Homo sapiens: one gene and its partners. The protein of the gene in region 2 purifies or fractionates together with the protein of the main gene of each other region. This does not show direct contact. Each region holds a gene or a part of one and is shown on either strand. Other genes may lie near its edges.

Evidence for each region.
Region 1: the proteins of DGCR8 (region 2) and SURF6 purify together in Homo sapiens (co-immunoprecipitation; 3 studies listed by BioGRID and IntAct, with this or other methods). This does not show direct contact.
Region 3: the proteins of DGCR8 (region 2) and GNL2 purify together in Homo sapiens (affinity purification with mass spectrometry; 2 studies listed by BioGRID and IntAct, with this or other methods). This does not show direct contact.
Region 4: the proteins of DGCR8 (region 2) and RBM28 purify together in Homo sapiens (affinity purification with mass spectrometry; 2 studies listed by BioGRID and IntAct, with this or other methods). This does not show direct contact.

What each region holds. Positions count from the first base shown.
Region 1 is NC_000009.12:133,328,246-133,333,189, forward strand, and holds the end of SURF6 (surfeit locus protein 6), read right to left. Parts: intron 4,516-4,944; coding exon 4,303-4,515; intron 4,104-4,302; coding exon 3,624-4,103; 3' UTR 531-3,623; downstream 1-530. UniProt on the Homo sapiens protein: Binds to both DNA and RNA in vitro, with a stronger binding capacity for RNA. May represent a nucleolar constitutive protein involved in ribosomal biosynthesis or assembly.
Region 2 is NC_000022.11:20,090,225-20,097,255, forward strand, and holds part of DGCR8 (microprocessor complex subunit DGCR8), read left to right. Parts: coding exon 1-34; intron 35-1,210; coding exon 1,211-1,408; intron 1,409-1,644; coding exon 1,645-1,746; intron 1,747-2,584; coding exon 2,585-2,683; intron 2,684-4,488; coding exon 4,489-4,571; intron 4,572-7,031.
Region 3 is NC_000001.11:37,592,926-37,600,312, forward strand, and holds the start of GNL2 (nucleolar GTP-binding protein 2), read right to left. Parts: upstream 3,013-7,387; 5' UTR 2,898-3,012; coding exon 2,834-2,897; intron 922-2,833; coding exon 837-921; intron 1-836. UniProt on the Homo sapiens protein: GTPase that associates with pre-60S ribosomal subunits in the nucleolus and is required for their nuclear export and maturation.
Region 4 is NC_000007.14:128,319,896-128,326,926, reverse strand, and holds part of RBM28 (RNA-binding protein 28), read left to right. Parts: intron 1-1,035; coding exon 1,036-1,109; intron 1,110-2,232; coding exon 2,233-2,368; intron 2,369-3,335; coding exon 3,336-3,400; intron 3,401-5,502; coding exon 5,503-5,661; intron 5,662-7,031. UniProt on the Homo sapiens protein: Nucleolar component of the spliceosomal ribonucleoprotein complexes.

The DNA of each region.
Region 1 (4,944 bases), on a different chromosome or scaffold from region 2:
CTCTCAACCTCCCTGGCTGGCATAGGTTCCTTGTGCAGACATCCAGTGGCAGTAAAATATTGCTGGGTTCTCAGCTTCCCCCACCTGCAGCCCTCACTGGCCCACCCAGTTGTCCTGTCTCTGCTCAGGACGAGACCCCCCCCCGCCTCTTCAGTCTCTGTAGCCAGGTGATGGCAGTGGCCTTTTCCAGACCCTCACTGGCCCCTTAGTTCACTATGATGACTTCACCTCTTGGGAACCCATGGGGATGTCTTTCCCTCCAATACATCTACATTTGCCTGACCCAGAATGTAGTTTCAAGATGGGTCCATGCCTGGCTCCAAATCCCCTTATCAGAGTAAGGAAATACCTTAATTCCTAGTTTGCTAAAAACTCGTTATAAATGGCTGTCGCGTCATTTACTGTGTTCCTGTTCTGCAACCATTGAGATGGTCACGTGGGTTTTGCTCCTTTAATCTATTGATATGAATTACACTCTTGATTCTCTGGCATTGAAACTGCTTTGCAATTCTGAATTAAATCCAGTGTGGCACTTTGCTAAACTTGGTTTATTATTGTCTAAAATCTTGACATTGGTATTTGTAGGGACCAGCCCCACAGGGTCCGTGGGTCTCTCCCTCCCTGTGTGCAGCAATGAGAGAGTGTAGAAATACACACACAAGACAAAGAGATAAAAGAAAAGGCAGCTGGGCCCGGGAGACCACTACTACCAATGCTCGGAGACCGGTAGTGGCCCCGAATGTCTGGCTGCATTGTTATTTATTGGATACAAAGCAAAAGGGGCAGGGTAAAGAGTGTGAGTCATCTCCAATGATAGGTAAGGTCACGTGGATCACGTGTCCACTGGACAGGGTGCCCTTCCCTGCCTGGCAGCCGAGGCAGAGAGAGAGAGGAGACAGAGAGAAAGACAGCTTATGCCATTACTTCTGCATATCAGAGACTTTTAGTACTTTCACTAATTTACTACTGCTATCTAGAAGGCAGAGCCAGGTGTACAGGATGGAACATGAAGGCGGACTAGGAGCGTGACCACTGAAGCACAGCATCACAGGGAGACGGTTAGGCCTCCAGATAACTGCGGGCAGGCCTGCCGGATGTCAGGCCCTCCACAAGAGGTGGAAGAGCAGAGTCTTCTCTAAACTCCTCCAGGGAAAGGGACACTCCCTTTCCCGGTCTGCTAAGTAGCGGGTGTTGTTCCTTGATACTTTTTGCTACTGCTAGACCATGGTCCACCTGGCAACGGGCGTCTTCCCAGACGCTGGCGTCACCGCTAGACCAAGGAGCCCTCTGGTGGCCCTGTCCGGGCATAACAGAAGGCTCGCACTCTTGTCTTCTGGTCACACCTATGTCCCCTCAGCTCCTATCTCTGTATGGCCTGGTTTTTCCTAGGCTATGATTATAGAGCGAGGATTATTATAATATTGGAATAAAAGGTAATTGCTACAAACTAATGATTAATGATATTCATATGTAATCATATCTAAGATCTATATCTGCTGTAACTATTCTTGTTTTATATTTTATTATACTGGAACAGCTCGTGTCCTCTGTCTCTTGCCTCGGCGCCTGGGTGGCTTGCCGCCCACAGGTATTTGGTAACTTCCCTTTCTCTTACCTAGTTTTGGTATCAAAGCTAAGTTCACGAATGAAGTGTTCTCTCAATTGATTCTGTTAGAATTTGTCTACGTCTGGAATTACCTGTTCTCTATATCGTGGAACTTCCCTGTAAAACCGTCTAGGGGAACATTCTTAACTACTGACTCAATTTCATCAGTGATTACAACTCAGGCTTTCTATTACTTTTAGTCAGTTTTGGAGATTTTTCTTCCATTTACTTTGAGTTGTTCCAACTTAAGCTGCATGCTTATTTTTCTTTAGCTTTAAAAATACAGACATACAGCGTATGTGTGTATAAATGGCACTATTTATCTGTAGATGCACATACATTTAGGGGCTATGTTTTTTTGTGCTGCTTTAGCTCTGTTCCACAAATCTTAAATTTTTTCTTTTTGAGACAGTCTTGCTCTGTCACCCAGGCTGGAGTGCAGCGGCTCGATCTTGGCTCACTGCAGCCTCTACCTCCTGGGTTCAAGTGATTCTCCCGCCTCAGCCTCCCAAGCAGCTGGGACTACAGGTTTGCACCACCACACCCAGCTAATTTTTTATTTTTAATAGAGATGGGGTTTTATCATGTTGTCCAGGCTAGCCTTGAACTCCTGATCTCAAGTGATCCACCCGCCTCCCAAAGAGCTGGGATTGACAGCATGAGCCACCATGCCAGGCCCTGTTCCACAAATTTTAATACGTAGCATTTTCATTATCCTTTAGTCCCAAATATTTCTAATAGCCATTCGGAATTCTTTAACTCATAGGTAATTTATAAGTGTGTTTTAAAAATTCCAAATATGAAATGCCACTGCACTCCAGCCTGAGTGACAGAGCAAGACTCTATCTAAAAAACAAAAAAAAATAGCTCAAATTTTTTTTAATGACATTGGGATACGGTCAGATAACGACACTGATTCCTTGAAATATCTTAAGACTTCTTTTCTGGACAAAGTAGGTGGTCAGTTTCCATCCATGTTCCATATATGCATGGAAAGAGTATGTATTCTTTTCAGATACTGTTGTGTCTGTCTCTCAGCTCAAGCTCATGCTCACCTCACATCCTATCTTTCACAGGGCTTTTTCATCAGTTGCCTCTGTCTGGTAACAGTCACACCAGCTCCTGTTCAGTTACAGTCTTTGTCTCATAACCGGAGAGTTTCATCAAAAGAATTTTATTTACAGCTTTATCATCCATATGCCACTAAAATTCACCTGTTTTCTTTCAACCTGCACTCATTTTGATTGCCTGGAACTCTGGATTTAATTCTTCCATCCCACTTTGTATCTTGCATTCACTTCACTCTCTCTCCAGCTTTTATTCTTTCTTTCTCTTTCCCTAGGTCCAATGCACTTGACCCAACTCACATGCGTGGACTCCGGGAAGGTACTGCTCCCTCCCTCCAAATTCTGAGCAGTAAAATGCCGCCCCGGGGCACTGGGGAACAGAAAGGAATGAGACCCCAACAGGCAGAAGCCAAGAGAGCGGGGAGGAGCCATGGCGTTCTGCCCCAGGATGCACCACGCCTGGACGTGCTCCCCCGACTCCCAGTGCCAGGTGCCCATATGCCACACCTCAGGGTTGTCCTCTGTTCGGGTGAGCTGCGGACTAACGTGGCCCGGCAGCAGAGGCCACCGTCTTCTGTCCCGTGGCTCCTGCGAACACAGGCAGTGGGGAACAGGCAGTGACTGCCCACCCCCACCGTTCCTCCTCCCTGACCCTGCAAACCTCGGGGAAGCTTTCAGGCCCGGGAAAGCAGACCAGGCCCCAGTCTCCCTCACCCTTTCCCTGGGTCTGAAGGTCCCGGATCCTGCGTTCAAGGATGACGCTGAAACTCTCTCTTTCTCACATGGGATCTGTGATCTGGGCCCTCACAACTCAGCAGAGCACCACTGTGTCCCCCTCACATGGAGAGGCCGAGGTCTGTGGAGATCCTGGGACAGAGCCAGCGTCAAGGACTCAGAGGGTGTCCTGGAGTCTCCTAGGACGGAAGACGGCGGCCCCAGGTGGGAAAGACTCAGACCAGGCCTGCGCGCTCCAGGTCCTGCGGCAGGATGCGGCCCTTCTTGCGGGCTCTGAGCAGGCGGCGCTCGGCGCGGGCCGCCTTCTTCCTGCGCAGGTTCTGCCGCCGCCGGTCCTGGCGCTGCTGCATCTTCTCCACCACGCCGGCCGTGCGCTTCTCCCACCGGCGCTGCCGCTGCGCCCTGCGCTTCTCCTTGCGCTTCAGGGCCTCCTGCAGCAGGCGTTCGTCGTCACGGATCTTCACGCCCTCCGCCTTGTAGAGGAGGTTGGTCCACTTCATCTTCGCCTCCAGCTCCTGCGCCTTCCCCTCATCCTGGCCGCGCAGCTCGTCCAGCCGGCTCTGCCGTGCCTGCAGGCGCTCCAGCAGCTGCCGGTAGTTCCTCCCGGTCAGCGGCGTGAGGTTCCCCTTCACCCTCTGCCTCTTCTCTTTTCTGCGCTGCGCCTTGCTGGCCGGCTCGTCTTCGCTCACCTCCACCTGGGAGGAAGGTATGACATCAGCTCATGCCAGCCCTGCACTAGGCCCCAGCCTTGGCCAGTACCCTAAGGGACCTGCGAGGTCCCCGTCACCACCTTACAGACATGATGGGGTTCGGAGAGAGATCATGAAGCTAACAAGGGGCAACGCTGAGGCCTGAAGCCGACCCAGCCCGCCCAAGGACCCAGCTCCCGCTCACCTTATTGAAGATCAGCCCGGGCGGCTCCCGCGGCTCCGTGCAGGCCCCCTCTGGGGTTGCCTCCACCACCTCCTGGGCCTCCGTGGCCTCCTCAGCCTTCCTGGCCTTCTCTTTCGCCCGCAGCTCCTTTCGCTTCCTCTTCTTCCGGTCCCGTTCCTGCTTTCTCCGCCGCCTTTTCTCCAAGGCGGCAGGGGACAGCTCCTTGGCACTGCCCTGGGGGAAAGAGGCACCCACTCATTAAAGTTCTCTCGATCCCAGGGTCCCCCAGCCTGGCCCATAGTCGAGAAGAATCAGGGCTGGAAGGCAGGTGAGAAAATCCTCACGCAAACAAGGGGCCCGCGGAGTTCAATGTTCCACCATGATGTTCCCCAAAAAGCAAATGACCCCAAAAGAGAGAAGGGACCCCCAAATAAGAATCACAGCTTCCAATTCCCGGGTGCTTACCCCGTGCCAGGATACATTACGCACATGGTTTCAAATGTCATACATCGTTTTATAGATGAGGAGGGTCAAGACCACTGCCTAGAACTTGGAGTTGGCGTCTGAACACCTGTCCTGACCGCTGCCCATTCTGTTCACGAGGTACCCAACGAAGCCCTCCCCAATGGCCTTTCCCATCCCCGGGCCAACAAGAGCCCTACA
Region 2 (7,031 bases):
GCCAAAGTCGAGGTGTGCAAAGATGAATCCGTTGGTGAGTTTTTGAAGGACTCTTCCCTTCTTGCCTCCTGGGACCCATGAGCTTTGTTTTTCTAATGAAGGCCATAATTGTTCATAGTTCCTAGTTGTACTTGTGAGCAAGGGGCTGTGCACCTCCACTGTTGGTGTGGCTGAAAGGCTTGTCTTCCTGTCCTTGCAAGAACCTGCCTGGGTGCAGCACCCTAGGCTCCTGTCTGTGGGCTCTGTGGTGTCTGCATGGCTGAGGCTGCTGGGGAGATGGCTGCTGGCACTGGCAGTGGGCCGTTTTCTCTCTGGTTGTTTGTATGATCTTTCCCTAAGTCTTGCTTTTTCAGTAGGATGTGCTCATGTGGCATTGTTTTGATTTGTCTTGATGAGCTCAGTGAGCCTCTTTAATCCATGACTCAGTGTTGGGAAACTGTCACCATTCTGTGGATAGTTCCCTCTTCAATCCTGCAATTGCTTGCTGGATGTGTACTGGTGTTTCCCATTCTCTCTTCCATGTCTTTTAGCCTAGTCCCGCCATTTAAGTCTTAGTTCTCTCTTCAGGTGTGGCAGGTCTCTGTGAACCCACCTGCTGGATTACTTTCAAAGAGCACTTTCCATTTTCTAGGTTTCTATTTGTCTGTACATCACTACCCAGCCTGTCTCATAACTCCGTGGAGTGTGGGGTGCCCTAGAAGAGCCTGTGATGGGGGCTGTTGCTGAGGATGGGGAAGTGGCCCGGGAGGAAATGTGACAAATGCGAGGCCCTGTGCAGGGAGCTGCCTGGGTGTGTTGCTGACTACAGAGGTGGCCAGGATGGCCAGAAGGAAAAGAGTGAGGTGGTCAGAGAGGTGGCGGGCGCATGGAGCCCGGGTGCTGCTGGCATTCGGGCACCTGTTTTGATACAGGGAGGAAGTCCCGAAGGCCATCTGACTTTTTTAAGCTGTCTTTTTTCCTTTTCATTTTTGTATTCTTCCTGCCCCAAATAAAGTAAAAGAACATCTCAGAAATTCATCCAGAAGGGACCTGCCAGAATAATCTGAGCTGGTGTAGGGAGGCCTTCATTCTTTGCTTCCCTCCCCTTTGAAAGGGACGGGGAAAGGAAATAGTGTCATGTGGCCTGGGCCTGCCCCATGCACTGGGCTGTGAGAACCTGACTCCTATGTTGGAAGTTAAGTAATTTGTTTCTCTGGTAAATCTGGGACAGATCTCGAGGAATTTCGAAGCTACCTGGAGAAGCGTTTTGACTTTGAGCAAGTTACTGTGAAAAAATTCAGGACTTGGGCTGAGCGGCGGCAATTCAATCGGGAAATGAAGCGGAAGCAGGCGGAGTCCGAGAGGCCCATCTTGCCAGCCAATCAGAAGCTCATTACTTTATCAGTGCAAGATGCACCCACAAAGAAAGGTATAAGCCTCTGCATTTTAACATCAGCAGACTGGTTATGCTGTTATTTCTAATGTGATGTGTTGAGGGCATGTTTTATGAGTTGCATTTCGTTCAAAGTTTATGTTTATCCCATGAATGCAGGGGTCTGCCACATTCACGGTCGTGAGCCCCTAGTTACTGACATGGTAACAGGAAGCTGTGTGCTAGCTTGTGGCACTGCTTCACACTTGCTGAGATGGTTCTTTTTGTCACAGAGTTTGTTATTAACCCCAACGGGAAATCCGAGGTCTGCATCCTGCACGAGTACATGCAGCGTGTCCTCAAGGTCCGCCCTGTCTATAATTTCTTTGAATGTGGTAAGTCTAACCTTCCCCATTTCAGTCCTAAAGAATCACAAGGTGTAACTTTGGTCAGGGCTGGGGAGGCAGGCGCTGACCGCTAGCCCTACTCTACTGGAACGGGAGGAAAGGGAAGGGTAGAGAGCAGCGTGCTGCAGATGGGTGGCTTGTTTCCTGGAGCCGCGCCCCATCTGAGTGGGTGGCTCTGCTTTTCCCTTCCAGTCTGTCCCCTCTCCCCACCTTCCTCTTGTCCTGCCCCATCTGCCTTGCTGGTTTCTGATCCTGCGTTGTCATGGACAGCCTTATTGCGAGCAAGGCCTCCCCACTGTGCACTGGGTCCTTTCCCTGGTCTCCTGGTGCCCCTGGGTGTCTGAAGGGTTCTTGGGCATGCATTTCCCACCAGCTCTGTCTTCCTTGGGTGCCCTCATCACACCTTTGTGAAGACCAGTCTGTCTTCCCCTTGGAAGCTGGAGCCTGGGGGTCACTCATCCTTTGAGGTGGTGTTTCTTTGGCAAGCCACATCTTGTGCTTTCCCATTCCGGCAGTCCTGTGTCCGTCTTTCGTAGACCTTGGTCCCTGTCGTAGGAGGCTCTGCCCCCAGCCTCCTGCTGCCCCTCTGGCTCACCATCTCCCACGTGCCTCATTTCCCTCCACTTTCCCAGCTGTGCCCTTTGCTGCTGCTTGTCTGCTGCCCGTCTCCAGTCCCAGGGAGCCCCAGGTCTCTGCAGTCAAGCACAGGCCCACTCTCTGCAGGGACAGCCCCTGACTGCGCCTTGTCTGTCGGTGTGGGCAGACTGTGCACACGCTTTTGATGTCTTGACTCGTATGTTTTAAAACAAGTAATTTTAATTTTAAGAGAACCCAAGTGAGCCTTTTGGTGCCTCGGTGACCATTGATGGTGTGACTTACGGATCTGGAACTGCAAGCAGCAAAAAACTTGCGAAGAATAAAGCTGGTAACGTGCTTGCTTGGGTGTCAAAGATACGTGCTGCCTGCTGTGTCTGCCTCGCTGCTTGGTTAGGGAGGGGCTGAGCAGTGGTGACAAGTGGGGGATGTGGGTGGGGCATGTTTATTTTATTTATGTAATCATCTACTTTGATTTTTAAAATTACATGCTCATTGGAAAAGACTCAAATAGAGCAAAATGTGAGACTTAAAAGTAGAAGGCCTCGGCCGGGCGTGGTGTCTCATGCCTGTAATCCCAGCACTTTGGGAGGCTGAAGTGGGCAGATCACGAGGTCAGGAGATCGAGACCATCCTGGCTAACACGGTGAAACCCTCTCTCTACTAAAAATACAAAAAATTAGCCGGGTGTGGTGGCGGGCACCTGTAGTCTCAGCTACTCGGGAGGCTGAGGCAGGAGAATGGCGTGAACAAGCGAGGCAGAGCTTGCAGTGAGCTGAGATCGTGCCACTGCACTCCAGCCTGGGCGACAGTGCAAGACTCTGTCTAAAAAAAAAAAAGTAGAAGGCCTCTCTACTGAGTGACAGCTGGGCCAGTATGTCCCTCCCTAGTCCTGGCCCTGCACATATTCAGGGGTGTGCCTAGAGCCAACTGGGCTGTGCTGGGCACATGCTGTAGTGCTTGTTTGTTTTTAAACTGAGCAGCATGTGGGCATGCCAGGAGGGAGGAGAAGCGGGCCAGCATGCTGTTGGCATCCTCCCCCAGTGGTGCTGGCTCTTACCGGCACTATTTCCTGAGTCCTCCCACTCCATGTTTGGGCCTAGCCACACAGAACACCTGGCACAGCGCAGCTCTGGGAAGGCTGTGTGTCCTGGCGAAGACCCACTGCCCTTTTGGACCATGCCCTTGCCGTTTGCATTCATGCCCTGCATTCGTGGTAGTTGACATTCTTTCACAAAAAGCCATTTGCCTCAGCGTCCAGGGTTAGTTGGCTTCTTGTAGGGTGGTGTTGGGTGTACCCCAGGCCCTCGCACCCACAGGTTGATTCTCGAGGTATCTGTCATTGCCGTGTGTTTTCCAGAAGGCCTGCTGCCCATCTTAGATTCTGCCTAAGAGACTTTTGCAGCTCAACAAAGGGGGTGTGGTGGAGGTTTTGACAGATAACTTGCAGTGGGGCCTTTTGTGGGGGTGGAGATGCCTTGGGCGTGGCTGTGTGCTCTTCCCTCTGCGGGATCACCCGCTTTCCTCCCTATGTGCTGGAACCCACTTCCCTTGCCCAGACTCTTGGCTGCCCTATAGACAGCTTGGCTCCATGTCTTGCCAGCACTGATAGCTCTGTGGGGTCTATGGAGCCATCAGCCCTTGGCTATGGCAACTCCGACCCCAGTGGGCATATCCGTGCCCTGCCCTCTAGCAGCTCCCTCTAGCGTCTCTCAGACCTGGCTGCATCTCTCCACCCACGCCAGCCACTGCTGCTGCCACCTGGTCTAGGTACCTGCAGTAGCCTGCTCTCAGGCCTCCCTGCATGGTCCAGGGCCCGCAAAGCTGTTTTCTCACGTGCCACCGAAGTGGTTCCCTAACATACAGCTCCGAGCTCCTCCCTGCCTGCTCCCAGGACCCCAGGGTGAGAGCGCACACACCCAGTGTGGCCCGTGAGGCTTTCTGGTAGCCTGCCACACGTCTGGGCTTTTCCTTCTGTCCTCTCCTGACCCTGTCACTGAAGTGCTGTCTCTCCTCAGGGCCCTCGCTCAGCCTCTGAGCTGTGGGGATGGGAGGCAGCAGTGCACAGTTCACTCTGCAGGGTGGTGAGAAGAGGGCAGTGCCCAAGCCTCACCCTCGGGCTCTTTTTTTTCATAGCCCGAGCTACACTGGAAATCCTCATCCCTGACTTTGTTAAACAGACCTCTGAAGAGAAGCCCAAAGACAGTGAAGAACTCGAGGTGAGTGTTGTGGTCCTGCCCTGCTGGGAGCTGTGTGTGCAGTGCGGCTACCCTGCCCTGTTAGTGTGAGCTGGGGGTGTCCGTGGGCTGTGCTCATGCCTTCCATGCCCTGTAGGTTAGTCTCATCCAGCCTCCAGGTTCTTCTGTTTGTATTTCATAAAGAGGAAACTTGCCTGTCTTTGTATAGGCAGGGAAAAAATGTCCTTTTTGTTAGAGATTTTTGTCCTCTTTTGCAGCATTGAGTGTGCACCGTAAATGTCGGGTACACATAGGTTTGTGATGGGAATGAATCTTTGAGGCAGTCTACAAGATTTAGATTGTTCTTTTTTTTGAGACAAAGTCTTGCTCTGTCACCCAGGCAGTGACAGAGTTTGATCTTGACCCACTGCAACTTTCACCTCCCGGATTCAAGTGATTCTCCCACCTCAGCTTCCTGAGTAGCTGGGATTACAGGTGTGTGCCACCATTTCTGGCTAATTTTTGTATTTTTAGTAGAGATGGGGTTTCACCATGTTGGCCAGGCTGGTCTCGAACTCCTGACCTCGGGTGATCCACTCGCTTCCGCCTCCTAAAGTGCTGGGATTACAGGCATTAGCCACTGCGCCCGGCCCTAGATTGTTCTTTATATACTTGACCCTTGAGTAACGTGGAAGTTAGGGGCACCAGCCTCTCACGTGGTCGAAAATTCACGCATCACTTTCAGTCCTCCCAAACCTTAACTACTTACTGGTAACCTACTCTTGACCAGAAGCCGTACCAGTAACAAACAATTGATTAATACATATTTTGTTATGTACATATTACTACATCTGTCCCCAACCTAGTTTTGGCACCAGAGATCAGTTTCAGGGAAGACAATTTTTCCACAGACGGTGTTGGGGGGCGGGGATGGTTTCAGGATGACTCAAGCACATCACATTTATTGTGCACTTTTTATTTCTATTATCACTACACTGTAATATGTAATGTAATCACTATACAACTCACCATAATATAAAACCAGTGGGAGCCCTGAGCTTGTTTTCTTGCAACTAGATGGTTCCCTCTGATGACGATGGGAGACAGTGACAGATCATCAGGCATTAGATTTGCATAAGGAGTACACAACCTAGATCCCTTGAATGCACTGTTCACAATAGGGTTCACACTCCTATGAGAATCTAATGCTACTGCTGATCTGACAGGAGACAGAGCTCAGGTGTAAAATGAGTGATGGGGAGCAGCTGTAAATACAGATTAAGCTTCACTTGCTCACTTACTCCCCCTGCCCCCACCACTCATGTCCTGCTATGCAGCCCGGTTCCTAACAGGCCATGGATTGGTACCAGTCCATGGCCTGGGGGTTGGGGACCCCTGATATATACTGTATTCTTACATTAAAGTAAGTTACAAAAAGAATGTTATTAAGAAAATCATAAGGAAGAGAAAATTTATTTACTGTTCTTGAAATGGAAACATCATCATGAAGGTCTTCATCCTCCACATCTTCATGTCGAATAGCTGAGGAGGAGGGGGAAGAAGAAGAGTTGGCCTTGGTATCTCAGGGGTGGCAGAGGCAGAAGAAAATTTTTGTATAAGTGGGCCCATGGAGTTCAAATCCATGTTGTTCAAGGGTCAGCCATGTGAAGAACCATTTAAAACTAGCTGTAAACCTTTTTGGGTAAATGGTTATTTGTAGCAAGGGCTTGTGGAATTTTGAAGGGTGCATTCTTATTTATATAATAGCTTTATTGAGATAGTTTACATACTATAAATTTGGCCTTTTAAACTATATAAGTGGATTTTTATATATTCAGAGTTGTATAACCATCATAACTACCTAATTTTAGAGTATCTCAACACCCCCAAAAGAAACTCCATACCCATTAGCATTCCCTCTTAGTTCTCTCCAACCACCAAAAGCCACTAATCTGCTTTCTGTCTCTATATATCTGCCAACTCTGGACATTTCATATTAGCGGAATCATACAATATGTGGTCTTTTGTGACTGGCTTCCTTCACTTAGTGTGCTATGTCAGCTGTAGGTTTTTATCAGAATAAGGAAATTTCCTTTTGTTCCTGGTTTGCTGAGAGTTTTTGTAGGAATGATGTTAGATTTTGTCAAATGTTTTTCTGCTTCTATTCAGATGATCATGTTTTTTTTTGTCTTTTATTTTAGTAATATAGTGTATTATATTGGTTTTTGAATGGTGAGCCAACCTTGCATTCCTGGGATATATCCCACTTGGTCATGACATATAATGATTTTTTTAATATGTTGCTGGATTCATTTTGCTGGTATTTTGTTAAGGATTTTTGCATTTGTAGTTATAAGCAATATTGATCTGTAGTTTTCTTGTGATATCTTTGTCCAGTGTAACAGCAGGTACAGGTATCAGGATAATACTGGCCTCATAAAATGGTTGGAACATGTTCCATTTTCTTCTGTTGTGTGGAATAGTTTGTGAAGGATTGGTGTT
Region 3 (7,387 bases), on a different chromosome or scaffold from region 2:
AATACCAATTCCAGTAAACACAAAGTACTTCTACATTTGAAACAGATTGCCCAAAAGCCATTTAACCTCTTGCAACAGAGCACGTAATGATTTCTGCTAGATGAATAACAACTAATGGTGACGTTCTAAAAAATCTGGTTACTGTTTACTTTAAAAAAAAAACACATACATACTTGAGTTTTTTGGGTAATTATTCAAAGGCTGGTTTAAATGAATTTTTCACGTAGAGGGTGATTTACGCCGGAATTCCAAATTCTAAAACAAACTGCAAAGTAGATGACTACACATATTAAGTTCTTTGACATTTGTATTTTAGTCACATCTTTTAGGACAGACGGAGATGGAGAATCTAATTACCAAACAAATTAAGACCAGTTAGCGGAATGCCACACTCAGCAAATCCCTGTGGTAGAGGCTACCTCAGCAGAACTCGGAGTTTTGATGACTGTCCAAGTGCCACAATGTCATGATCTACATTTTGGCATTAAAAAACACATTTTCTGGTGGCTTTCCTAACTACAGTCCTGTAGGTTTTGTTATATCTGGCCATATTTAACTCTGAGATTTAATGCGCCATTTGTGGAGGTCAGGGCTGTGAGAAACAAGACCTCTACTTTTGAGTATTGTGAAACCATCACTATTTCACCGCCAGCTACCCATGTCCTTAACCAAAAGTTAACACTTTATCCTAACGACACTCACGTACAATTATATTTGAGAATATATAACTCCTATTTGGAGGAAGTGGGGGTGAGAACAGCAAAGGCTTCATCAGTCTCAGCTAGCAGTCAAGGGCATGAAGGAAAAGAGAAAGGATGACAGCACCCAGTGCTCACCTGCGCTCCTTTTGCCTATACATATTCAGGCGCCGGATGGTGGCCCGGTCCCTCATGTTTTGGCCTCCTGCTCCCTGCACTCGATCTACAAAAGGCAGAAGTACACAGTGCACTATTTGATAACCAACCAGTATAACCAACAAGTCATTGCTTAAAATGCAACAAGTAGTTCACCCAAATTAGGTAAGAAGCCACCAACCACAAAAATCTCTACTTTCTCCATATGTTGCTCCAATAATTAGTACTTGAAGCTACATGGTATGACAAAGCTGACCCAATCTTTGATCTTCGATAGGATTGTATTTGAGAAGAATAGCTAATATTTTTGAGCACTTATGATGGCACTGTGTTATCCAAATTATAGGCATCATCTGATTTAATCTATACAATAATCCTATAGATATATTATCCCCATGCTGCGGAGTGAGAAACTGAGGCACAGTGGTCAGACACCTTGCCCAAGGTCAAACCGTTACTAAATGGCAGAGCCAGAATTTGTACATGAGCATTTGATCACCATCTATGGTCTTAACCACGAAGATACCTACCTCTGTGTCTCAGTTTAACAAATATTGAGTGCCTGCTCCATGCAAGGCACCATGGAGACTATAATTTTGATATATGTGTTCTTACTTTCTTAATGTTTGATTTTTGTTTAATCAACACAGCAATTCTTGCCTTACATCTCAAAGAGAAAGAGAAGGACAAACGAATAGGGTAATACTAGCCTAGCTTCTCATTTTGGGAGCCCTTTATTTACCTATTTATTCATTTATTCATTATTATTATCTTTTTTTTGAGACAGAGTCGTGCTCTGTCACCCAGGCTGGAGTGCAGTGTCGCGATCTCAGCTCACTACAACCTCCACCTCCCCGGTTCATGCAATTCTTCCACCTCAGCCTCCCGAGTAGCTGGGATTACGGGCATCCGCCATCATGCCCGGCTAATCTTTGTATTTTTGTAGAGAGGGGGTTTCATCATGTTGGTCAGGCTGGTCTTGAACTCCTGACCTCGGGTGATCCGACCGCCTCGGCCTCCCAAAGTGCTGGGATTACAGGCGTGAGCCACCACACCTGGCCAGGAGCCCCTTAAATCACCTGTCTGGTCCTGAAGTGATACAGTAGAAGACAGGCTGAAACCACAGCCCATTGGCTCTCCTAACAGTCTCTAACAGTAGAAACTGGCGGCTCTACTACTACTCACTAACTGTTGCAATTATGACAGGCCACTTCCTGTATTTTGATTCAGTCTCTTCACCTGTAAAATCATAATCTCTAAGGGCCTTTTGGGGTCTAACATTCTGAGATTCCAGTTTGTGCAAAGTGAATAATTTATTATCAATCCGGAATAAACATTCAACTTGCATTAAAATTGTCAAAAATTCTAAACCATATTTTAAAACAAAGTTTTATTAATTAAACCTGAATGGAAGGAACTCTCCCATAGGATGTCTTGTTAATCGTACAGGTGGAACCTCGCCAAAACTTACACACATCTCCTAAACAGCCTTACTGCAATGATCATACTGACTTCTTTGTAGGGTTCTCTAAGCACTTTACCAGATAGAATAATTCCAAGGGCCAAAACTATAAGCCCTTTCTCATTTTAAAGGTCAAAGCTAAGGTGGCAGGCAAGTATGATCACGTGTAAAAGGCCCGAAGGGTCAACCTACACCATTTTTAATCTGACTTTCTCTGCATCTCTCAACTGGAGAGGACCCAAGGCTGTCAGCCTGAGTGTTCACTTTCCTTGACTTCAGACCAGTTGACTACACTTTGGCCTGCCAGGCGTGCACTGAGCCCTCCTCAGTTCCCCCCTGAGAAGAAACCACCACAAATATTGCTTTCCTTTTTCCCTTTTCATCCCCAACAGCCACCCCGCTCGTAGTCATTCTAAGCAATGCCACTCGAGTAACCCTCCTTCCCCTCCAGTGCTCCTCGGAGCCCTTCCCTATACTTCCTCCAAGCTCCACCCTCGATCAGCCCTGCCGCCTGTACCTGGGTTTGTGCTGGCCTTGGACGGGTTGATGGTGCTCCGTCCTTTGTACTTGGGCTTCACCATCTTGGCGACGAGACCGGGACCGGAGTGCGAGGTCCGGCTTACGTGGTGAAACAAACTTTTATGTTCCCAAGCCCGGCCGAAGACACCCGCCTGAACCACGCCGGACCACGTGTGCACGACGTACGTCACTTCCGCTCGCGTCCCTCTCGGCCTCAGAGCGACTTCCTGTGAACGCGCGGCGCGCGCCGTCACCCTCCTGGCTCCGCCCCCGCTCCAGCCGCCTAGGCGTCGCCCTGCGTGGAGCCCCAGCCCGCTCCAGCCCTAGCAACCGCCAAGCTGCCCGTTCATAGCAACCGCCTAGTTAACCTGAACGCGCGGCCAGAGCTCCCAGTTGGGTCCACCTCCGAATAAAGAAGCTTCTTCCCAGGCCAGTGGCACAAGCTTAAGTTTGTCTTCTGAATTTGTCTTCTAAGTCCTTCCAAAAGTTGCCGACCACACAGCAGCCAAATATCCGTTAGGAGGTGTCATTCTCTTCCTTACAACTCCAGTGGCTTATCATCACTCTTAGAATGAGAGGTAGGGGAAGGGAGAAGGGAGAAACAGACAGAGACAGAGATTGATTCAAACTTTTTGCCATCCCTACAGGATTCTGTGATCTGGCCCCTGCCTGCCTATTTATCTAATCTCATGTGTACGTCCCTCCCTCTGGTTATTCTGACATTTACACTGGATATTCTCTCTGCCTGAATCACTCTTTCCCAGAATCTTTGCATAGCTGTCATTCAATCCTAAGCTCAAATATCACCTATTGGTAGGCCTGCAAGAATTAGCAAATAGAAATACAGGACACCAAATTAAATTAGAATTTCAGAGAAAAAAAATGAATACTTTTCTTTAGTACACCTCCAACAGTGCCTGGAAAATACTTAGACTAAAAAAGTATTCATCGTTTGCCTGAAATTCAAATGTAACTGTACGTTCTGTATTTTATCTGGTGACCCTTCCTGCTGTGAGAACTCATTCCTGTCTAATTTGTCTAAATCAGCCACCTTTCACCCTTTCACAGTTATTCTGTTACAGTATTCTGTTTTATTTATTTCATGGCATTTATCACTAGTTGAATTTTTTTTACAAGTTTATTGGCTGCTTCCCCCAAACTAGAATGTAAGATTCTTAAAAGCAGGGACCTTGTTAATTTGTTCACTGCTGTGTCTTTAAGACTTGAATAGCATCTGAAACAAAGGACTCAAAAAATATTCATTAAGTGAAAGAATGAGTAGATGGGAATGTCTCTTGCCTTGAGGATGAAGGAAGGCATTAAGACCCAGTGATTTCTGTTTCTACTAGCCAGAATAAAGTGTCTAGATGCCAGTGTTTGAACCAAGAAGCCCTCTCTCTTTTTACAATTTATTTTTTGTTTGTTTGTTTTTGTTTTTGTTTTTTGAGACGGAGTCTCGCTCTTGTTGCCCAGGCTGGAGTGCAGTGGCCCGGTCTCGGTTCACTGCAACCTCCACCTCCCGGGTTCAAGCAATTCTCCTGCCTCAGCCTCCCAAGTAGCTGAGATTACAGGCGCATGGTATCATGCCCAGCTAATTTTTGTATTTTTAGTAGAGACGGGCTTTCACCACATTGGCCAGGCTGGTCTCAAACTCCTGACCTCAGGTGATCCACCTGCCTCAGCCTCCCAAAGTGCTGGGATTACAAGTGTGAGCCACCTCGCCTGGTCCCTCTCTCTTTTTTGGTACCTCAAATTGTCAGAAAATGGCCATCTTTGTACCCTCTGGATAGGCCAAAGAAGAGATGGTTAGGCAAGAGGAAGGGTGGATTCATGCAGTGTAGCTCATTTCATAAAAACAAACAATTTGTTATAAAGTGAGGTATTCTAATTGAGCAGGGGATGATTGAGTCTTTATTTCTCTGAGTTTGAAACAAACCCCAAAACATTCTCTTTAGAGCAAAAGCAGGCCATGTCATAGGCTAGAGCTGGAAATACCTTCTGTCCCTCAAGCTTCGCTTTTATTGCCCCAAGGGCAAGTATCATGAGATTAAATGCAGCTCTGCTGGGAAGGCCCTGACTGTGACCTGTGTTAGGGAAGCTCTGAGAGCTATTTGGAAAAAACTTCATGATCAGTGAAGATGCCCCCTTCCACCCCACACTGTCCCTCTGATCCCCAAAACAAGGATACCATAGCCTCCTCCCAGAGAGAAGATTCAGTTAATGTGTTTCTGATGCCTCAAGTTGGTGCAAACCAGAATAAACACGGATGGCAAAAATCAGCCTATGAGCTCATTCAGGCTTTGATCAGAGACATAATTTCATTATGAAATTTTGAATCAGGCTGTTGTGAAGTCTTGCCAAGGAGTTTCATTTTCCCAGATGATATGGTGGGTTGTTTCTCTCCTGTTCTCATACTCTGCTTGCATTTATCTTACAAACTTTCCATCTATTTTTATAATCTGACCCATCAATCCTTTTACAACAATATTTGCCGATCTCGACAACCAACTTCAATTCTACCAGCAGATAAAAAGCCTGATCAAGGTAAGTCAAGCTTAAGTTACTGGTTTGATTTGCCTGCCCTGCTTGCCGCATTGTAATGCAGTGACTATTTTTCACTCTCTTTTCTGATGTCATGCCAACTAGCAGAGGCAAGATACACCTCCAGGTCTACAGTTCCTCAGCTTTAAAACAGATGCAATAGCTTAACTACTCTGAAAGACTGCAATAAGATCATATGAGTTACAGTATATGAAAGCATCGCAGACATGGTACACATCATGCAGATGGGATGCTTTCTATTTTTCTTCTTTTTTTTTTTTTTTTTTTTGAGATGGAGTCTTGCCCTTTCACCAGGCTGGAGTGCAGTGGCATGATCTCAGCTCACTGCAAACTCTGCCTCCTAGATTCAAGCTATTCTCATGCCTCAGCCTCCCAAGTAGCTGGGATTACAGGCACGCACCACCATGCCCAGCTAATTTTTGTGTTTTTAGTAGAGACGGGGTTTCGCCATGTTGGCCAGGCTGGTCTCAATTTCCTGACCTCGAGATCTTCCCGCCTCGGTCTCCCAAAGTGCTGGGATTACAGGCATGAGCCACTGCACCGGCCAGGGATGCTTTCTATTTTTCTCAAAATCCAAGGTGAGCTACTCATCCCCTCAAATGTTGCTCCTGGTAACCACAGGTTTGTGTGAATGAGAAGACCTTAATGGATGGAGACTGGCTGGAAATGCCATGTTCTGGACTGGTGTCTTCACAGGAAGCAGACAATCCTGACCTTACTTTTTTTTTTTTTTTTTTTTTTTTCAGATAGAGTCTTGCTCTGTCACCCAGGCTGGAGTGCAATGGCACGATCTCAGCTCACTGCAACCTCTGCCTCATCAGTTCAAGCAATTCTCCTGCCTCAGCCTCCCGAGTAGCTGGGATTGCAGGCACCCACCAGGACACCCAGCTAATTGTTGTATTTTCAGTAGAGATGGGGTTTCGCCATGTTGGCCAGGCTGGTCTTGAACTCATGACCTCAGGTGATCCACTTGCCTCAGTCTCCCAAAGTGCTGGGATTATAGGCATGAGCCAGTGTGCCGGGCCCTGACCTCACTTTTATCTTCATTCTGTAAAAAGTTTATCACTGGGGTCTAATGGGCAAATAGCAGCAGCTTCTAAAGCAACATTTTTTAAAGTGTGGTCTGAGAACCACAAGCATCAGAATCACTTGGGGGATCTGTTTTAAAATGCTGGGCATGGTGGCTCATGCCTGGAATCCCAGCACTTTGGGAAGCAGAGGCAGGTGGATCGCTTGAGCGCAGGAGTTCGAGATCAGCCTGGGTGACATGGTAAAACTTTGTTTCTACAAAACATACAAAAATTAGCCAGGCGTGGTGGCTCAAACCTGTAGTCCCAGGTACTTGGGAGGCTGAAGCTGGAGAATCTCTTGAGCCTGGGAAGTGGAGCCTGCAGTGAGATCGTGCCACTGCACTCCAGCCTGGGTGACAGAGTGAGATCCTGTCTCAAAAATAAAATAAAATAAAACAAAAATGCAGATTTCTGGGTTTTATCCCAGAGCTTCCAAAATCAGACCATCTTGGGGGTGGGGCCAAGAGAATCTACATTTTAGCAAGCTCCTCAAGTGATTCTTGTATATACAAAAGTGAAGTCTTTTCCAAGAGTCACTCGGAGGCTTTCTGACCTGCTGACCAGAAGGCAGCCCTGGAAGATCAAGCTTCTTTCCTACCTATCTTAAATCATCTTGTTCTTCTTAGCAGAGCCAGGGTGAGGAAGGCTGCTGCAGTGTCTAATGCACTCTGAAAATATATATCTTGGCTCTGCCCCAAATGCCTTGATATTTATGCTGCAGCCGGAGGGTCGTTATCCTTTGGCAATGCTCATTTGTAAGGCCATTAGCTCTTAATTAGTGCCGGCTTGTTGAGTTGTACTTCCCAGTTGAACTGCTAGCAGAAGCTGCTCTTTTGGGGCCTCTTGTGTCTCTCCTCTGGCAAGCCCATGAAGCATTGACCCGTGCCTGCTGAGGCCAAGAGTTGGGCCCCTGGAATGGC
Region 4 (7,031 bases), on a different chromosome or scaffold from region 2:
CTTAAGCGATCTTCCTGCCTTGGTCTCCTAAAGAGCTGGGATTACAAGTGTAAGCCACCACACCCAGCCTTCACATGGATATTTCTTATTAAGAGAGATCATGAGACTAAAGTTCTAAGAAGAATTAGAACAGATGAAGGAAGTAATAATAAAATTTCATTAAGAGCAGTGGTATCTTTGTCTTGATTATTTGGTACCTAACATAGTGCCTGTGTCATAGTGCAATATGCGTCACTTAATGATGGGGATACATTCTGCAAAGTTCATTATTTGGTGATTTTGTCATTGTGTGAATGTCATAGTGTACTTATACAAACCTAGGTGGTATGGCCTACTACACACATAGGTCATATGTGCTCCTAGGCTACAAACCTGTACAGCACAGCATGTTGTTATACTGAATGTTGTAGGCAGTTGTAACATAATGGTAAGTATATGTGTATCTAAGTATTTCTAAACATAGAAAAGGTATAGTAAAATGCAGTATAAAAGATAAAAAATGGTACAACTGTATAGGGCAGATCCATTGTAATCTTCTGGGACCACTGTTGTATATGCAGTCTGTCACTGACCAAAACGTCCTTATGCAAGTACATGGCTGTACTTTTTTTTTTTTTTTTTTTTGAGACGGAGTCTTGCTCTGTTGCCCAGGCTGGAGTGCAGTGGCACTATCTTGGCTCGCTGCAACTCCGCCTCCCAGGTTTACGCCATTCTCCTGCCTCAGCCTCCCAAGTAACTGGGACTACAGGTGCCCGCCACCACGCCTGGCTAATTTTTTGTATTTTTAGTAGCGACGGGGTTTCACTGTGTTGGCCAGGATGGTCTTGATCTCTTGACCTCATGATCTGCCCGCATCGGCCTCCCAAAGTGCCGGGATTACAGGTGTGAGCCACTGCACCCGGCTACATGGCTGTACTTAATAAATGGATGCCACCTATCCCTTCCACTCTGTGTCAGGCTGTTGCCATTTGCAATGTTGTCTTTGGTTTATCTGTGGGAGTTTGGGATCTCACTGAATTGTGTCTCCTTGTGCAGGTTGTGCATTTGCCCAGTTCATGACTCAAGAAGCAGCTCAGAAATGCCTTCTAGCTGCTTCTCCAGAGAATGAGGTAAGGAAGATATTTCCTTTACCTTATAACACAGGAGGCAGTTTGGCTCTTAGGGGCAACATCTGGTATTTATACAAAGCTTTATTATTATTTTTCTTGTCAGTAATAATAAAACTAACACTTATTTAGCACTTTGTGTTAGGCACTGAACTTTACATGCATTATCTTAATCATTACATCAGCCCTTTGAGGTAGGCAGAATTATGATCTCTACTTCATAGGTGAGGAAAAGGGGATAATAACGTATCTGATATTTGTTGCTTGCTGTCTGTGTCAGCCTCTATCCTAGACTGATAACATGAAAGACTAGGATGAGGTATTAAGGTCGTCTGTGAAGTAGAGTAGATGTTTGAGAGAGAATGTGTGTGGGTGATGGAGAATTACTCCATTTGTTCTATAGTCGAGTATAATGTTATCTAATATTGCTGTTATTTCTTAAGTCCTCTTGAGTAAGTACTCTACTATTTCACTAGCTTACTTTACAATACTAGACATTTGCCTGGTTACAGATAATTTTCCTCAGTTTGGGTCTACTTTGGGACTAATCAACTCCCAGAAAATAAATTCTTTACTGCTGACTGCCTGAAATACACATGTGGCCTTTTGCACAGCTATACTAAATATTGTGAGGCCCAGTGATCCATTTGTAGCTAGCTGAGCTGAAACGTCGTAGGGCTTGGCTTCCATAGCGTAATTGATGTTTGCTGTATCCCTTTCTGTGGTGTTCTTGTCAGGTGCTTAGTTTCTAGTTTCTACTCATTATGTGTTGTTTTGTTTTGTTATTTTTTTATTTTATTTTATTTTTTTTGAGGTGGAGTCTCGCTCTGTCTCCCAGGCTGGAGTGTAGTTGCGCGATGTCCGCTCACTGCAAGCTCCGTCTCCCAGGTTCATGCCATTCTCCTGCCTCAGCCTCCTGAGTAGGATTACAGGCGCACACCACCATGCCCGGCTAATTTTTGTATTTTTAGTAGAGACGAGGTTTCACCATGTTGGCCAGGCTGGCCTTGAACTCCTGACCTCAGGTGATCCACCTGCCTCAGCCTCCCAAAGTGCTCGGTTTACAGGTGTGAGCCACTGTGCCCGGCCATTATGTGTTTTAAGAAAGGGTTGTGATCTGTTACAGGCTGGTGGGCTTAAACTGGATGGCCGGCAGCTCAAGGTTGACTTGGCGGTGACCCGTGATGAGGCTGCAAAGCTTCAGACGACGAAGGTGAAGAAGCCGACTGGCACCCGGAATCTCTATCTGGCCCGAGAAGGCTGTGAGTAGGGAGATGTAACCCACACTTCTAAGTACCTGGCCCTGTGCCATAATCATTGATCAAGCAATAGTATGCCTGGAAGCATGTTTCAAATTAAAAACCCAAATGTTCTCTTTAACAGTGTTATATGATCATTCCACTTTAATAAATGTGGCTCTCTATTAGTAAACCTTCACTCGTTTTTGTGGATTAACTGTCCCATTATCTTTTCTGCCTGGTTGCCTTTAGTCTTTTTCAATAGAGGATTGGCAAGGCAAAGGGGGAGGAAGAACTCAAAATACCTTTGCTTCTTGTCATCATTTCTAATAAGAGGTTTTCATTATGACTAAAATTACTCTTTTGGATTATTCATGGATTTAAAATGTGCACCCAATACTTTCCTTTAGTGTCAGAAAGACAAAAAAATTAGCTTTAAATTTTTAAAAAAATTCTTCTAGGTCACACAGCATTTATCAGCTCACCTCCTCCATAGCTTCACAGCCTGTACTAGTAATGTCCTTTAGCCTTCGACACCAGCCTTCTATGGCAACATAACTGTTTTCGGCTGGCTTATCTCACTGTTTAGTAATGGACCTCAAGTATATAAGGAACAGCAAAGTTAAGTTCCAAGGGCAGATTATAGGTGGAACATTGTGCATTCTAAATGCCCAAAATGTACTTATGTTCCATACTTCTTCTAGGCCTTTCTTTCTGACTTTGGGCATGTACGTGAAGATTCTTTGAGGGGAGAGAAGGAGAAGAGGAATAAAATCACAAAATGTTTAGAGTTTTAGTCCTTGAGAGCAGCTCTGAGCCCAGAACTTAGCCCTGTAGCCTATTTCTGGACCTAACCAAATGCCACCGTGTCCTGGCCAAGATAGTCCTCTGGGCCCTGTACAAAGAGTTTGCATCATTCAAATCACATTCCTCTTGTTGCTCAGTGAAAATTCCCTTGTTGATGTCTTGGCCTTTTTCCCTCTTTCTGCAGTGATTCGTGCTGGGACGAAGGCTGCAGAGGGTGTGAGTGCTGCTGATATGGCCAAAAGAGAACGGGTGAGTAGATTAGGCATTGACCTTCACGTTCTGCGTGGCCTATAAATCAATCAAAAATAGTTATCGAATGCTAGATGTGCTCATCAAAGAGCCCAGTATGGTCACAGACCATACTTATTGCCCTGTTAGGGAGAAAAGCACATAGGTGAAATAGCAAGTAACCCAACATCATACATAGTATTCTATCTGTTTTGTATGCTGGTATAAAAGAACTGTGTCTTATTATTTGTTTCCCTAGTGCTTGGCAGTAAATGTTTGCTGAACACATGCTGCTACATCATGCAGTAGACAGTCAGAGGCTATTGCTACATGTAATTAGGTGTCAGTATAAACACAGAATAATGTAAAAGAGGAAGATCAGAATGAGCTGGAGTTATTAGAGAAGGGAGAAGATATGGCTCTTGAAAGGGGTAGCTGTCAGTTGGGAGGAGTTATAATCTCCAGATTATAAAATCATTTTAGAAAAACTCCATTTTATGGATGTTTCCGATGTTAACCGATAACTCATATTCCTTTGCTGCTTGGTAATGTTCCCAGTAATTTTTACTTTTTCCCATATAACTTACTTTCAAAAAGCCAAGCCAGCCTAGAAGGGTAAAGATGCATAACTGTGAACAGAATTAGCTATGGAACCTTAACATGCAGATGAGGAACAGGGGTGAGAGTGTAATGACAGCAGGAGGCAGTGCGTCTTTTTTTCAGTGGGCACAGATTCTGCACTAGTGTTTTCAACTTTTGTGGTAGTGAACACCTAGAAATCATAGGCTCTGGAGACCCATCCTTAACTGGAGAAATTACAGAAAATTTTAAAGCCTCAATTTTATAAGGGCACTATATACCCTTGTCTGATCACAGTGCAATAATGACATATTTAATTTAAAACTAATTTTGTTAGCAAAAAGCTCATTCAATGATAGGTATGCATTATAAATTCACAGCAGGCACAGCTTTTCCTGACAGAAAAATAGTCTGTTGAACTTAAACATGATAGCCTTTTCAGATGTTCCTTTAATAGTCGTTTTCCAAGGGATTTGTTTATTTTGTGATCTGTTGGTACTTTTACCAAACAAGAAGCAGCAGGACTGAGAAGACTTGACAAAAGAAAAACTTTTAATTGAAAACTTTTTTCTACCAACTTGGTTTAAAAAAAACTAATTGGGAGAAGAATGTCATCTTTCATTTCATTTTAGACACAGATCACGCAGGAACTGGGGTTTTGTGGCAGCATAGTTGAGGGTATTGCTCTAAGAGCAAAATATGGTTCTGTGGTCATTGATACTCCTTTGCCTCAGGGTGGCAGAGTTGAGACAACACAGCATTCTGTCAAGTATTCTTTGAATAACTTCCATTTCCTTTTGGAAGGATTAGATAATCAGTTGAGCTGGTGGGTAGATGAGGACTGGGCATAGATATTAATCACAGTATTATTTGTTGTTTGTTCTGAGCTACATTTTGAGCTAGGGAATTTTTTTTTTTTTTTGACCGAATTTCACTCTTGCTGCCCAGGCTGGAGTGCAATGGCACGATCCTGGCTCACCACAACCTCCGGCTCCCAGGTTCAAGCGATTCTCCTGCTTCAGCCTCCCGAGTAGCTGGGATTACAGGCATGCACTACTATGCCTGGCTAATTTTTGTATTTTTAGTAGAGACAGGGTTTCACCATGTTGGCCAGGCTGATCTTGAACTCCTGACCTCGGGTGATCTGCCTGCCCTGGCCTCCCAAAGTGCTCGGATTACAGGCATGAGCCACCCTGCCCAGCCTTATATTATCTCATTTTGGCCTCACCTCAGTGCTCAGAGACCTTGATCTACTGTTTCGTTTTATAGATGAAAAATTGTGGCTTTAAAATTTTATGTAATTTCTCCAGTTAGGGATGGGTCTCCAGAGCCTATGATTTTACTATTACCCACCCACCATCTTGTTCCCTTGGACTTTTCTTTCCCTATACTAGGCATTGTAAAGCTGCGGTGTGGGCAGTTTCCATCCGTTTTCTATATGTGTGGTTATGGGATGAGGATCATAATTCTTTCCTTTTGGAGAATTATGAGCCTACCTCTTAAAAAGAGTGGGTTGTACTGTTAACCATTGGTTGTTCTTTCAGTTTGAGCTGCTGAAGCATCAGAAACTCAAGGACCAGAATATCTTTGTCTCCCGAACCAGGCTCTGCCTGCACAATCTCCCAAAGGCTGTAGATGACAAACAGCTCAGAAAGCTGCTGCTGAGTGCTACTAGTGGAGAGAAAGGGGTGCGCATCAAGGAGGTGAGACGTGGCCCTGACCATTTTGGAGCTTTCATTCTGATCTTGGGTCAGATCAAGCATTTCCCTCAGGCTGTGGTGCCAGATTTTGTTTGTTTGTTTTGAGACGAAGTCTCACTCTGTTGCCCAGGCTGTAGTGCAGCGGTGCAATCTTGACTCACTGCAACCTCCTCCTCCTGGGCTCAAGCAGTTCTCCTGCCTCAGCCCCCTGAATAGCTGGGACTATAGGCGTGCGCCACCACGCCTGGCTAATTTTTGTATTTTTAGTAGAGAAGGGATTGCACCATGTTAGCCAGGCTGGTCTCGAACTCCTGACCTCAAGTGATCTGCCCACCTCGGCCTCCCAAAGTGCTAGGATTACAGGCGTGAGCCACTGTGCCGGGCCATCAACAGACTTTCTTCTGGACATGTTGTCAGCATGCATAGCTGAGTTTAGCAGTTTCTTGGTTTTGTTCTTTTTCTTCTAAGAATTGTCTTTTACATCTGACTGAATTACAGCAGAATGCAAGGAAATCTCTGTCTGCATGAATTAATTTAGCAAGCATTTATTAAATGCCTGTTGTGTGCTTAGCATTATACTTTGTGCTATCATGTGAATTTTCTTGCAGAGAAAATAATCTGCTTTGCTTTTTGGAAGAGTATTTTACTCCTAGTTAGATTCTTACCCTGTGTTCAGAGTCCCCTATGCCTTGTGGTCAACACAGGAAGCCATGTAGATGTTCAGCAGTTGAATTAGAAAAACACTGGGTTCACACCAACTTGGTTAGACTCTGTGTGAGTACAGAACTTTTCTGCCTCCACATTCCCCTTTGCGTATTTCTCTTTTCTTTTTTTTCTTTTCTTCCTTTCTTTTTTTTTTTTTAGATGTGGTCTTGCTCTGTCTTTGGCTGGAGTGCAGTGGCACCATCTCGGGTCACTGCAAACCGCCACCCCCCCCCCCCCCAAGCTCAAGCAATCCTCCCACCTCAGCCTCCCAAGTAGTTGGGCCTATAGTTACACACCACCATGCCTGGCTAATTTCTTTCTTTCTTTCTTTTTTTTTTTTTTTTTTTTGAGACGGAGTCTCACTCTGTCGTTAAGCTGGAGTGCAGTGGCATGATCTCGGCTCAACGCAACCTCCGCCTCCCGGGTTCAAGCGATTCTCTTGCCTCAGCTTCCCGAGTAGCTGGGACTACAGGCATGCACCACCACGCCCAGCTGATTTTTGTATTTTTAGTGGAGACGGGGTTTCACCATGTTGCCAAGATGGTCTCGATCTCTTGACCTCAAGTGATCCGCCTGCCTCGGCCTCCCAAAGTGCTGGGATTACAGGCGTGAGCCACCTCGCCCAGCCCATGCTTGACTAATTTCTTGTTTTTGGTAGAGACAGGGTT